3 separate regions of the Homo sapiens genome follow, and regions 1 and 3 are each linked to region 2. The links come from fine-mapping of genetic effects on gene expression. A gene starts in region 2. Each other region holds a variant in brackets. All regions are shown on one strand. Distances are between the middles of the regions.

Evidence for each region. PIP is the estimated chance that this variant, and not a neighbour inherited with it, causes the effect.
Region 1: its variant is fine-mapped to the expression of ACAD9 in whole blood (TOPMed, PIP above 0.99). The same link has a PIP of 0.9 or more in spleen, stomach and tibial artery.
Region 3: its variant is fine-mapped to the expression of ACAD9 in whole blood (TOPMed, PIP above 0.99). The same link has a PIP of 0.9 or more in blood mononuclear cells.

What each region holds. Positions count from the first base shown.
Region 1 is chr3:128,850,972-128,855,208 of GRCh38, forward strand. It overlaps the pseudogene MARK2P6. Among named protein-coding and RNA genes, the nearest start is that of MIR12124, 6.3 kb to the left of the region's middle. The variant G/A (reference allele first, on the strand shown) is at 2,324.
Region 2 is chr3:128,877,914-128,881,913 of GRCh38, forward strand. ACAD9 (acyl-CoA dehydrogenase family member 9) reads left to right here and starts at 1,707. Exons shown (of 18, transcript NM_014049.5): 1 at 1,707-1,928. The coding sequence starts at 1,779. It overlaps ACAD9-DT (ACAD9 divergent transcript), which reads right to left and starts at 1,523. Exons shown (of 3, transcript NR_186174.1): 1 at 1,223-1,523. RefSeq lists enhancers at 577-1,428, 1,284-1,833, 1,429-2,281, 1,894-1,973, 2,282-3,133.
Region 3 is chr3:128,900,847-128,905,083 of GRCh38, forward strand. It overlaps ACAD9 (acyl-CoA dehydrogenase family member 9), which reads left to right. Exons shown (of 18, transcript NM_014049.5): 8 at 430-503; 9 at 1,707-1,782; 10 at 3,216-3,286; 11 at 3,540-3,659. Among named protein-coding and RNA genes, the nearest start is that of ACAD9, 23 kb to the left of the region's middle. RefSeq lists an enhancer at 1,248-2,447. The variant A/G (reference allele first, on the strand shown) is at 1,674.

The DNA of each region.
Region 1 (4,237 bases), 27 kb before region 2:
CTGAGGTGATGGAGATGCTAAGATTTGATCATTCCATGGTGCACACATCTATCTAATCCTCACATTATATCCCATAAATGAATACAAGCATAATTTTCCAATTAAAAATAATAATTAAAAAATAATAAACGGCTAGGTGCCATTGCTCACGCCTGTAATCCCAGCACTTTGGGAGGCCGAGGCGGGCGGATCACCAGGTCAGGAGATTGAGACCATCCTGGCTAATATGATGAAACCTCGTCTCTACTGAAAATACAAAAAATTAGCCGGGCGTGGTGGCAGGTGCCTGTAGTCCCAGCTACTTGGGAGGCTGAGGCAGGAGAATGGCGTGAACCCGGGAGGCAGAGCTTGCAGTGAGCAGAGATTGCGCCACTGCACTCCAGCCTAGGCGAGAGAGTGAGACTCCATCTCAAAATAATAATGATAATAATAATGAACATATGACTCAGAGACATTTTCTAAAAACAAAAAAAGAAACCAACAAAAGCATAATAAATAAAATAAAGTGCAGAAAAGGCAGCTTGCCCCCCACCCTCCGCTTGGTTTGTGTCTGGGCCGCAGCTGTCCCCTGGGTTTACTGGAGCCACTGTATTTCTCCATGCACAGTGGGTCTTTGGGGCCAGGAGGAAGCAAAATGTTTTTGAAGACAAATCTAGTGGCTCCCTGGCAGCCCTGGCTCTCTTCACAGGGAGAGGCTGAGGTCACACCATCTGATGCCCAGTGGAGAGGGTGCTGGCTTCCCGGGCTGTTCCCTGGGGACAGGTGACTCCTCCTGGGTCTCCCACATGGACAGAACTGACGTCCTGGGATGTTCCCTGGGGGCAGTTGACTCCTGGGCCGCTCCCACTGCTGCTGGTGCTCTGGATGGAGGGGGAGGCCACAGGGCCACACTCGGAGATGTGCTGGTATTGGGTCACATCACCTCCAGGCCCAGAAGGGGACAAGCAGGCAAGGTGGCTTCTCTGGGCATCTTCTGCCCTGGCCCTGGTCCTCCTTGGGTTGCTGGATTTCTGAAGTAAGGGTGGGAAAGGCCACAGTCAAGACCTTTTTCACCAAACATTCCAGCCCTTGACTCCCCTTTGGTTGGACAGAAAAGTTGGACTTAACTTTGGGGGATGGGGAAGGTCAGTGGGATCCCCAGGATTAGGTAGGTGGCCATGGAATAATTATATATATATTTTTTCCTACTGGGGATTCCTTGATGTGCCTAGAATGTCACGGCTACCAAGAGTCAGGTTGTTAGGGGGCCCAGGTGACTGGGGAGCAGCTCTATGTGTGGCCCAAGGGTTCCCTGGCCAGCATTGACCCAGGGGTCCCGCATCAGCTGGTCCTCTGTGGGTCATTCTCTGGGGTCAAGGATCAGAAATTTCTTGATAAATATTTCAATTCGGAAGGAATATAGACAGTACATATTTTCCTTGAGTATGTTTTTTTGAGGCTGAGAAGTTCTGCCTGCCAAATGGCAGGGCCCTGGCCCCATGTGGTAGACGGGAGAGCCAAGACCCACACGACCACTGCAGGGCTGTGATACTCGTGGCCCAGGAAGAGTTCTGGGGCAGCTTAAGGGGAGTCCCACCAAAGGCGCTCAGCTTCTGGCCTTGGGAATATGTGGTGCTGAAGCCAAAGTCAGCTCTTTTCATGTTGTGCTCTTCATGCAGGAGTCCTGCCACCCAGGTCCTGGCGGCTGACTTTGGTGGCAGTACTACAGGGCAGATAGTATTTGCAGAAACATGGCTTGAGCCTCCTCCTTCTCCATGTGGCCAGGCTGGAGTGTTTGGTGGAAAAGGTCTTCACTATGAGTATCACCATAGCTCAGTATGGGATGTCTGAGGTTTCAATGACATGATATGGCTTTATTATGATGGGACACTCAGGGCCTTCATGACGTCTACCTTTCTGTGTAGACTCAGAAGGCTGGGGGAGCCCCTAGTTATAGATTTTATTTTTACAGCCACCTGAGTCCCAGTGAGTTCGTGCTGGGTCAACTTCACCTCACCCAGGCTTCCCTGGGCCAATGGTCTTGAGGACTGTGGCATTTTTTTTTTTTTTTTTTGAGACGGAGTCTCGCTGTCGCCCAGGCTGGAGTGCAGTGGCTCGATCTCGGCTCACTGTAGGCTCTGCCCCCGGGGGTTCACGCCATTCTCCTGCCTCAGCCTCCCGCGCAGCTGGGACTACAGGCGCCTGCCACCTCGTCCAGCTAATTTTTTGTATTTTTAGTAGAGACGGGGTTTCACCATGTTAGCCAGGATGGTCTCGATCTCCTGACCTCGTGATCCGCCCGCCTCGGCCTCCCAAAGTGCTGGGATTACAGGCATGAGCCACC[G/A]CGCCCGGCCGAACTGTGGCATTTTTAAGGGCCTCCTCAATGGTGGAAGCCAGACCTGGAGAAGGTGCCTTCTCACAGGGCCGGCACTTCCAGAGGGGAGTGGCACCGGGGCGGGGGCACAGACTCTGAGGGGCCCTTGGGGAGCTCAAGCAAGGCCCACAAGATCCCCCTCTCAGGTTGCAAATTGGCATTAAGTTGGGGAGATTCAGTATTCATACCTGGGAGACACTTGCCTTCAAAGTGAAAGGAAATCCTGGGGAGGTTTTGGTGCTCCGGAAGGCAGGCAGACAGTGGGGCTGCAGCCAGGCCCTCTCCTCTGCATGAGGCTTTATGGGGCCTCAGCGTCTCCCACAATGATGGGGTCCCCCTGAGCTCCTCTTTTCAGTGTTCCCACATGAGCCTGAGTGTGGGGGACTTTCTGAGCCATTGCCCTCTGACTTCCCCTCTGTGGGCTGGGGAGGAGCTGTGAGGAGCTTCAAGGTGTGGGGTCGGGGCCCTTGGGCAGCCATCTTGGGGCACCCGAGCCCCAGCCCTCGGGAGCCCAGGTGCAGGCTCTGCCTCCACCTCTGAACGGCTGAATGGCGTGTTCAGCTGCTGTGGGTGGCAAGCAGGGAGGGCCGTGACAAGGTCTCCATTCCAGGCTGATGTTCCAGATCTGCAGGGGTGAGTATCAGGGAGGCCCGGGGTAATCACCCTGCCCAGTGGTGGCCTCTGCCATGGGCACACAGACTCCAGGCCAGGGAAGAGACACAGCAGCAACCTTGGAGGAGGGGCCTCTGCCCACCTGTGTGACAGCCACCAGGGGCTCCTGGCTTCACAGCCTTGCTGGGGAGAGATGGGAAACTGAGGCCTGGGGACCCTCAGCTGCCTGAGGTGCAGCTAGACTCAGATCCACCTGAGGCTGCCCAGTCCACCTCTTCCTTACTTCCTCCTTCCAAGAATATGGGCACAGTGGTGAGAACTTGGAGATAAGAGATCGGGACCAGTCCCAGCTGGAACCACTGCCCCACTGCTCAGCCTCTGGCAGCCACTCCTCTCTGGCCTGAGTGTCCTCTTAGTTCAATGGGCATCTCTAGGTCCCTGTGGTACCTTCCTTGTCACAGGCACATGAGGGGTCAACAGGATCATCACCCAGCACTGTTCACAGACACAGACTGAGGCTGGATCCTCGGAATCAGAGCTGGAGGGGGCCCTTTTGTGCAGATGGGGAAACTGAGCCTTGGACTGACTGTTGCGGGAATCAGGAGACTGGAGAGACCAATGGGTGAAACAGGAGGATTTTATTTAGGTGGCCACCGGCCTAGTGGGTTAATATTCAGAGGCTGATAAATGAACAAAGGCCAGGCTTAACTTTTATTCAGGCAACTGAAGGGGAGTGGCTAGCCAGTGGCACAAAACTTGCAGGGTGGGGAAAGCAAGCTTACAGAAGCAGAACAAAGGCAGTTAACTGTGACAGGTTTTGCAATTCAGGCATGTCTTGTGACCTTTGCCATCCTGCACAGATGGGAAAACAGGAACTTATAAAATCCTTGCAAACTTGCAGAAATAGTTACAAAAATAGTTACAAGCGCAGAACAAAGAATAATGGCATTGGGAGAGAATTCCAGGGGGAGACGGATAAGAACTTGTTTTTCTCATCCCTATTCTTGGAATCCATTTCTTTGGGGCCCCTGCCTGGCCTTGCAGATAATGTTATCATAGCTCCAACTGGACTTGTTTTCCCTTTACTTGTTTTTCTTATATTTCCTGCTTAATTCTCCCCTTTGATGCTGTTTATAAATAAAGTTTAATAGAAAGCATTATCATCAGAATTTAATTCTCCATGAGGAGTTAGTCCTTTATTTGGCAAAGGTTGATATTTGATTAATGCCATTAGTTGGGTGGTGGTTTACCTGGTTACAAGAACCTCTATGG
Region 2 (4,000 bases):
TTTTAAGGATAATTTGGCGAGTAGGAGCTCGGGAAGTGGGGAGTGCTGACTGGTTGGGTTGGAGATGGAATGATAGGGGGTTGAAGTGAGTTTTTCTTGCTGTCTTCTGTTCCTAGGTGGGATTGCAAAACTTGTTGAGCCAGATTACCGGTCTGGGTGAAAAAGCAGAGTGGCATTCTTCCTGGAGGAGCTGGCTGAAGATCTGTAGAGGGCCCATGTGCCACGTTCAGAGCACTGTTGGGCTGTGAGGTGCCAGGCATGCCCTGCCTCCTACGTGGGCCCCTATGGCCTGGCCTTGAAACCGCCACTGCAAAATTATAACCGAGACAATGAAAGAGATCTGACCTAACCAACTCCATCTTGCTTCTAACCTCCAAGCTGTCCTTGTTCATTCCTGAGCGTAGGCTGAACTAACCTTGGGAAGGAATGAGTTTATAGTTTAACTTCAAAACAAAAATAGCCCTTTCCCGGGAAAACAACAACAACAACAACAAAAAACAACCTCTTCTTGCCTGGGACCAGTTGGCCTTTGGAGGACTAACAAATTAGCTATAAGATTAGAAATTACAGTTTAGAGGCCATACAGCCTTTGGTTGCAAGAGTCTGAACGTCCCCCAAATTGTTCCTGGGAATAACATCACTGTTGTAAAACCTACCAACACCCAGACTGGTAATCTGGCTCAACTAGTTCTGCAATCCCATTCAGGAACAGAAGACAGCAAGAAAAACTCACTTCGGCCCCCTATCAGTCCATCTCCAACCCGACCAATCATGCACCTCCCACTTCCCGAGCTTCTACTCGCCAAATTATCCTTAAAAATTCCGATCCGTTTTTGGGGAGACCGATTTGGCTAATAAAACTCCCTTTCCAACACACCCGGCTCTGCGTGAATTACTCTCTCTCTATTGCAATTTCCGTCTTGATAAATCAGCTGTCTAGTCAGCGGGCTGTAACCTTGGGCGGTTACAGCCTGGCCTGTCCCATCCCATCCAATAGTTCCCATCTCTTCTCAGCTCTCTCTGTAGTTTCTCTTCCTCCGCCTGCCTTTTAAGTTAGTGTTTCCCAGGACAGAGGTGACTCAGTTGTATCCAGACCGCTCTGTGACTGAACACCCACTTTCTTTTCCTTTTCCAAAAAATATATGTAACATACATGTCAACTAGGAACAAAACAGTATCTCAGGAATCCACCATCCAGTTAAAAATGGACCCTTACCCTTACCGTGCCCCTGCAGAGACCCCAATACAGCGCATTTCCCTCATTCTTTTGCTTTTCTCAAGTTTTACCACGGCCTCGTGGCCACAAGTGACAAAAGAGACAAGTGGAGGCAGCTGAGCCGGCCTTTAGGTTTCTGTACACAGGGAGATTTCCCATGGCTGGCATTTATGGAAACAACCGCTGGTATGTGAAAAACAGGTCCGTCACCGCCGTCACGACGGCCAGAGATTATACCCGCCGAGATGCCCGCGGCCCAGGGCCTACAATTTCCTCCGGCCAGCTCCTTTGGCCGCGCAAGCGCAGTGGGGCCGGCGGGAAGCGTAGGCGTGTGACGTCATCAGGCGGCGCGGGCCAGCCAGGTGCACGTGACTAAGGCCTTGGGCGCGGCAGGTGGTAGCCTTCCCGCCCTTCTGGCCTCTCCATCCCCTGCTGCGGGGGACCGCGCAAGCGCAGTGAGTACTGCACGTTGTCGCGGGCCAGTAACGTCATCAGACGTGTGTGTGTCCCTGCGGCGCTAAGAAGGGGAGACTGAGGCTGAGGCTGGGGAACATCGGGCAGCATGAGCGGCTGCGGGCTCTTCCTGCGCACCACGGCTGCGGCTCGTGCCTGCCGGGGTCTGGTGGTCTCTACCGCGAACCGGCGGCTACTGCGCACCAGCCCGCCTGTACGAGCTTTCGCCAAAGAGCTTTTCCTAGGCAAAATCAAGAAGGTAACGCGAGCCCTGGGCGAACCCTTGCTGTCTGGCTCCCGCTTTTCACCCTCAGCTGCAAGACTGGTGTTGAACTTTGTGAGATTCCCCAAACCTGCCAGAGAGATACACCCTGCGGCCGAGGCGTGTTAACACTCCGGATTCCTGAGTTCCAGGAAAACCTTCCCAGAGAAAGGGTGAGACATTTCCAAGACGGGGGACCCTTGGAAATGTGGTGGTGACGTGTTCCAGCTAAATTTTGTCAGGGGAATTCGGAAAACTCTAGGCTAGGTAATTAACAAAGCAGCCTTCATCTCAGCTGGTCTGGTCTGGAAATGTGCGGGGCTTCCTCTCTGATTCCTAAACAGCTTACACCATGTCCCTCCTCAGTCACCTTCCAGCGCCCTGGGGCTTCCTTCCCCAGGTGAGCCCAGCGCCTCTCCCTGCCATTGAGGTTCCTCAGAAATCTGGCTCCAAGATGCTTCCCAAGGGTGGCACAACCCAGCCAATAGTAACAGTTTGGTTATAAAACACTCATTGTCTTCTTAGAGTTGGAAGACTTGGGTTTGGTCTTGGCTCGTTGACTTTGAAACTCAGTTGTTTTTTTTGAGACAGAGTCGCGCTCTTGTCGCCCAGGCTGGAGTGCTCACTGCAACCTCCCTCCTGGGTTCAAGCGATTCTCCTGCCTCAGCCTCCGGAGTAGCTGGGATTACAGGCGCCTGCCCGGCTTTTTTTTTTTTTGTATTTTTAGCAGAGACGGGGTTTCACCATGTTGGCCAAGCTGGTCTAGAACTGACCTCGGGTGATCCGCCCACCTCGGCCTCCCACAGTGCTGGGATTACAGGGGTGAGCCACCGCGCCCGGCCAAGACTCAGTTCTTTCAGCCTTAAAATGGAGATAGTGTTGTGTCTCCTTCACAGATGTGTTGTAGAGCCCCAGTGAGATAAACGGTGCATGGAGAGTCTTCTTAAACTGTAGAGTACTGTGCAGCAGAAGAGAGAGCTGGCTTCAACACTTAGTCTTGTGACCTTGGAGCTGACGGCTGCACCTCCCTGTGCCTCAGTGCATTCATCTACAAAATAGGAATAAACACATTTCTTGCTCTTTCCTTTGTATTTCATTTTATCTTCTAAGGAAACCAACAGTATACTTGCTATTTCGTCGAGGTGCCCTACTTTGAACTTGGCTGAATGTTGGCTGATCCTGTATCACAGAAGTTATTCCCTGGCTTCTCTTTGGAACGTTCCTCTGAGGTTGTCAGGCTGATACCTTTATAGCAAGCAACTTTACAGATGAAGAAGCTAAGACTCAGACTAAAAGCAGTTTGCCCAGCTAGAAAGTGCGGAGCTATGTCTTGAACATATTGGAAAACCTTTTACCCAGGACCTGGGGCAGTGTGGTGCTCTATCCTGGGACTTCCTGCTATCCAGCAGCATGGTGAAGAAAGAACACAGATCTTTCAGATCTGTTTCCATCTTTAAACCTCTGGCACTACCTGCCCTGCCCTGCCTTTACTCTCAGCTGTCAGCTTTGCTTCCCATTCCACTGGGAAAATCCATGCAGTCGGATGAGAAGTTCACAGGCACAGTTACCCCCTCCCGCTGCATATGTGCCGGTATTATCTACATTCTGTTACTGTGAACTGTCTGCTCCTGGCAAAACCAACCTCTCATTAGACTCCAGGTCTTCTCACCTACTCAAGGGTAATTCTTTCCTTTCTCTGCATCATTAACTGTTCTCTCTACTGGATCTTGAGCCCTTACCATTCAGGCATTTGTCCCTAATGGCCATAGAAGTCAGTAATGACCTCTCTGTTATCAAATTGTGTGATCTGTTCTCAGACCTCATCCTACTTGACCCATCATTGGCATCTGACACCGTTCATCCTTCCACCCTGTTGACGCACTTTCGTCTCTGGTTTCTGAATCACTGTTCTCGCCATTCTCTGAATGTTCTAAATACTTCACTGGCTGATACTTCTCTGTGTCCATTGCTGGTTCTTATTCAGCTCCTTGACCGCTAAACAGTGACCAGTGTTTCCAACTAGCCAAGTTGGAATTTACTAAGGCTGGGTCTCGTTTCATCTACAGCCA
Region 3 (4,237 bases), 23 kb after region 2:
GTGGTCCCAGTCTACCCTAAGGCTTCAGGAAATGCTGTTCTTTCCCTCACTTTGCTTGTTCTGGCTCTTTATATGCCTGGTTCTTTTCATTCTTAAACTTCTGCTAAATGTCACCTTAGAAAAGTCTGACATAGTCCTTAATAAAAATATTATTATCCACCCCCTTGCCAACCTCCATTTCTCTTTATCGTGATGCCCTATTTATTTCATCCATAGCACTGATCACAATATTACATTGTTTTGTTTATAGCTTTTGTCTCCCAAATCAAAGTATGAGCCTCCACAAAGATAGGAACTTTGTCTTTCTATACTGTCCTACCAAACATTGGATGGATGGATGGATGGATGGATGGATGAATTGCCTGCTTGCAGGTCAGATGCAGAGTGGTTTGCATTGTCAGATGATATCTTAAATTTCATGTGTTTCAGCTTGTGAAGTCCATTTTGAAAACACCAAGATACCTGTGGAAAACATCCTTGGAGAGGTCGGAGATGGGTTTAAGGTGAGTTGCCAGCCACAGCCCCTTGTACCAGGTAGTGTCATGAGTGCAGTTTGTCGCCCCCAGCTTTTGCCCTATCCCTGCTCGTAGCAGAGTAGCCTGTGCATGGCAGGTGACTTTGCATGGTTATCTGTTGGGAAATTGGCAAAATGGACACTGGAAAATTGGCTGGCTCCTAGAAGAAGTGTATGGTAAGGATTAGGAATTTCCCTTCACCTCTGAGGCCCTATTCGCCTCGAGCGGAGGCTAAGATTCCCTTCTGCAGTGGGTATGAGAAAGCAGCCTGTGGGCTCTGGTGAATCTCAAGCTCTGTGTACCACAACCCTGGTCTGCATCGCTGCCCTACTCTTTTCTTTTTGGACTAAGACTTATTTTTATCAAGAGATGATTCATATGACAAAGGACTCACCATTTTAAAATATTATTTCAGTGGTTTTTAGTATATTCACTATGTTGTTCAAATATCTCACACAGAACATTTCCTCACCCCAAAAAGAAATGTTGTACCATCCAGTATGACCCTTACCCCATCCCTTGGCTGCTACTCTTTTACTTTATGTCCCTATGGATTTGCCTGTTTGGAACATTTCATAAAAATGCAGTCATATACAAGATCCAGTCTTTGGTGACAGGCTTCTCTCACATTGCGTGATGTTTTCAAGGTTCATCTCTCTCATAGCATGAATGAGTAATTCATTCCTTTTATGGCTGAATTCTCTTCTGTTGAGTGGAGATACCACATTTTGTTCATCCATTCACCAGCTGATGGACATTGGGGTTGTTACCGCTTTTGGCTGCTATCAGTAATGCTACTTATGAACATTCATGTCAAGTTTTAATGTGGAAATAACGTTTTCAGGTATTTTGATTTATGCCTAAAAGTAGAATTTCTGTTTGGCCCAAGTTGGTCTTGAACTCCTGGGCTCAAGCGATCCTCTTGCCTTGGCCTTCCAAAATGCTGGTACTACAGGTGGGAGCCACCATGCCCAGCTCTGGCATGGTCCTTTGGAATAACGTTCAGTGGTCTTGTGTGTGGGGATGTTGGTAGAGCTGCAACAGTGACTGAACCACCTTGTTCTGAGGCATTAGGATGGTGCTTTCTCCCAGCTTGAGGGAAGGCAAGCTGATCCACCTGGCCTGGTTTCGTTGCGGCCTCCTCCCTCTGCCTCCTTC[A/G]GGGCCCCTGGGCTCTCCCTGTTCTCCCTGCAGGTGGCCATGAACATCCTCAACAGCGGCCGGTTCAGCATGGGCAGCGTCGTGGCTGGGCTGCTCAAGAGATTGATTGGTAGGTAAGTTAGGGACAAGGCCCTTTGTGCCCCACCCCCTGCTGCCCCGGCTCCAACCCTGGAGGCTCTGCCATTCCCCCGGCCCCTTCCAGGCCAGTGCTGAACCAGGCTACCAGCCTGAGCTCAGTCCCTGGGCTTTTGTGGAGACCAGAGGGTCTCCTCAGCCTGCCCCTGAGGTTTGTTGTCTTCCGCATTCCTCTGTTTCACCTCCACCCGGGTGATGCTGACTGGGGGACAGGCTTTCTGTCTGGGGTGGGGATGGGGATTGGGGAATGGGCTGTCTGTCTGGAGTGAGAGGTTGCCACTGACCAGTAGGAGCAGAGCTGCTTGGTGAGCACACACCAAGAACCAGGCTTCCAGGATACACGGCCTCTGGTTCCCAAGGTCCGTGCCTCCTGGGTGACTCTGCATGGTGGGTGGGGAGTAGGATCGGGTTTGGAACCCAGGTCCCTGGGCCCCTGGATCTTACCTTTGTTCTATTCTGTCAGAATACCCCAAACCTCCATTTTCCTTTGCCAGTGAACTTAGAACAGCCCTGTAACCATCCTGGTTGTGGTGGAAGCATTTGCGGGGAAATGGGGGTACCCGGGGCAGCACACCCCTAAGTGCTTTATGAAGCTCCTCTTTGGTGCCAGGCTCTGGGCCTGTTTTGGCTTCCCTCCATTTTAGAGATGAGAAGACAGAGACTCAGAGAGGGCAAGCGATTTGTTCCAGACTGTGCTCCTGGACCCAAAATGAAAGCTGTCAGGCTCCAGGCTCAGGGCTCTTCTTACTCAGGCACAAGGCCTCTGGGGAGCTCCTCTGCTGGGGCTCTGAGTGGGGCTCGGCCCTCTACACCTCCTGAGTGCACCACACCTGGGAGAGCCTGTGGAGGACATGGCTATGGCGGGGCGGGGGTGCTTCTGCCTGGGAGAGGCGCCATGTCACTCTTGGGCCCTTAGAGCTCAGCACTTTGTCACAGCCACACGCCTGGAAGCCCCAGCCTGAGTATTCAAGCCAGGCGGCCCCACCTGCTTTGGTCACTGCACGGGGTGTGAGCCTGCACCACCTCTGTCTGGGGCCTCTGTGCCTGGCTTTGTGCGAGGCGCCCTCCCCCTTCCACCTGGTTGCATCTTCACAGCGACTCTGAGGTGGGGGTGGTGTTCAGGGAGGTGTCGCACTCGGCCTGAGGCACAGCCTGTAAGAACCATTGCCAGGATTCAAGTCTGTATCTGATGCCAAACTCTGTGTGTGGGTGCCATGAGGAGGGGTGGTTCTCCTCTGACCCACGGGTGCTGGCAAGTGGGGGTGCCAGCTTCTGGGGTATTTGACCTCAGCAGACACGCTTCTCACAGTGCCCACCTGTGGGAAGGGTAAGGATGATGGCCATAGGAAATCATGTTTGAACCACAGAAATATTCCAGTTCATTCTAATAACTCTGCTCTTCCTCAGAAATGACTGCTGAGTACGCCTGCACAAGGAAACAGTTTAACAAGAGGCTCAGTGAATTTGGATTGATTCAGGTACCAATGGTTGAGTACTGTATTTGTGCATTTCACTGTGTGACATGAACGGTGTGTTCTTTTGATGTCTCTGTACTGGTGACTTCTGTGGTGATTTGGGAAGAAGACTAGTTAAGGCTTTATTTGACACGGGTCACTGGGCTTGCTTCTCTTGGGCATTGAGGCTTCTGACTTAATTACTTTCTCTCCTGTTTCACAGATTTGGCTCTCAGCACATGCAAATTGTTTCTTGTGTTTTTTCTGAACACTCCAGGAGAAATTTGCACTGATGGCTCAGAAGGCTTACGTCATGGAGAGTATGACCTACCTCACAGCAGGGATGCTGGACCAACCTGGCTTTCCCGACTGCTCCATCGAGGCAGCCATGGTGAAGGTAACCCTGGCATAGCCAGAGAGCTGGCGCTGGAGGGAGGCTTGGGAAATCTCCCTCACTGTGACCTTTCAAGCCCATGCTGTTGCCTGTCATCTTCCTCCTGTCATTGATCCAGTATTTATGATGCACTTGCCCTGTGTAGCACTCCAGGGATAGGCAGGCAGCGGGGAGCAGCAGTAGGGAAGTGTCCAGTGGGCCAGTGGATCAGTAGTTTATAGCAGAAGGAGACCGTTATGATAATATCCTTTTAGAGTAATAACATTGCATCTGGCTTGTGTGAGAAAGACTTCTTTTTTCCTTAGTTTATGGCCTTCCTACTTTCTGGTATCAAAACTTTATCTTAAAAACTAAGCATATGGCAGGGCGCGGTGGCTCACACCTGTAATCCCAGCACTTTGGGGGGCCGAGGTGGATGGATCACCTGAGGTCTGGAGTTCGAGACCAGCCTGGCCAACATGGTAAAACCCCATCTCTACTAAAAACACAAAAAATTAGCCGGGCATAGTGGCGGGCACCTGTAACCCCAGCTACTTGGGAAGCTGAGGCAAGAGAATCACTTGAACCCGGTGGGGGCGGAG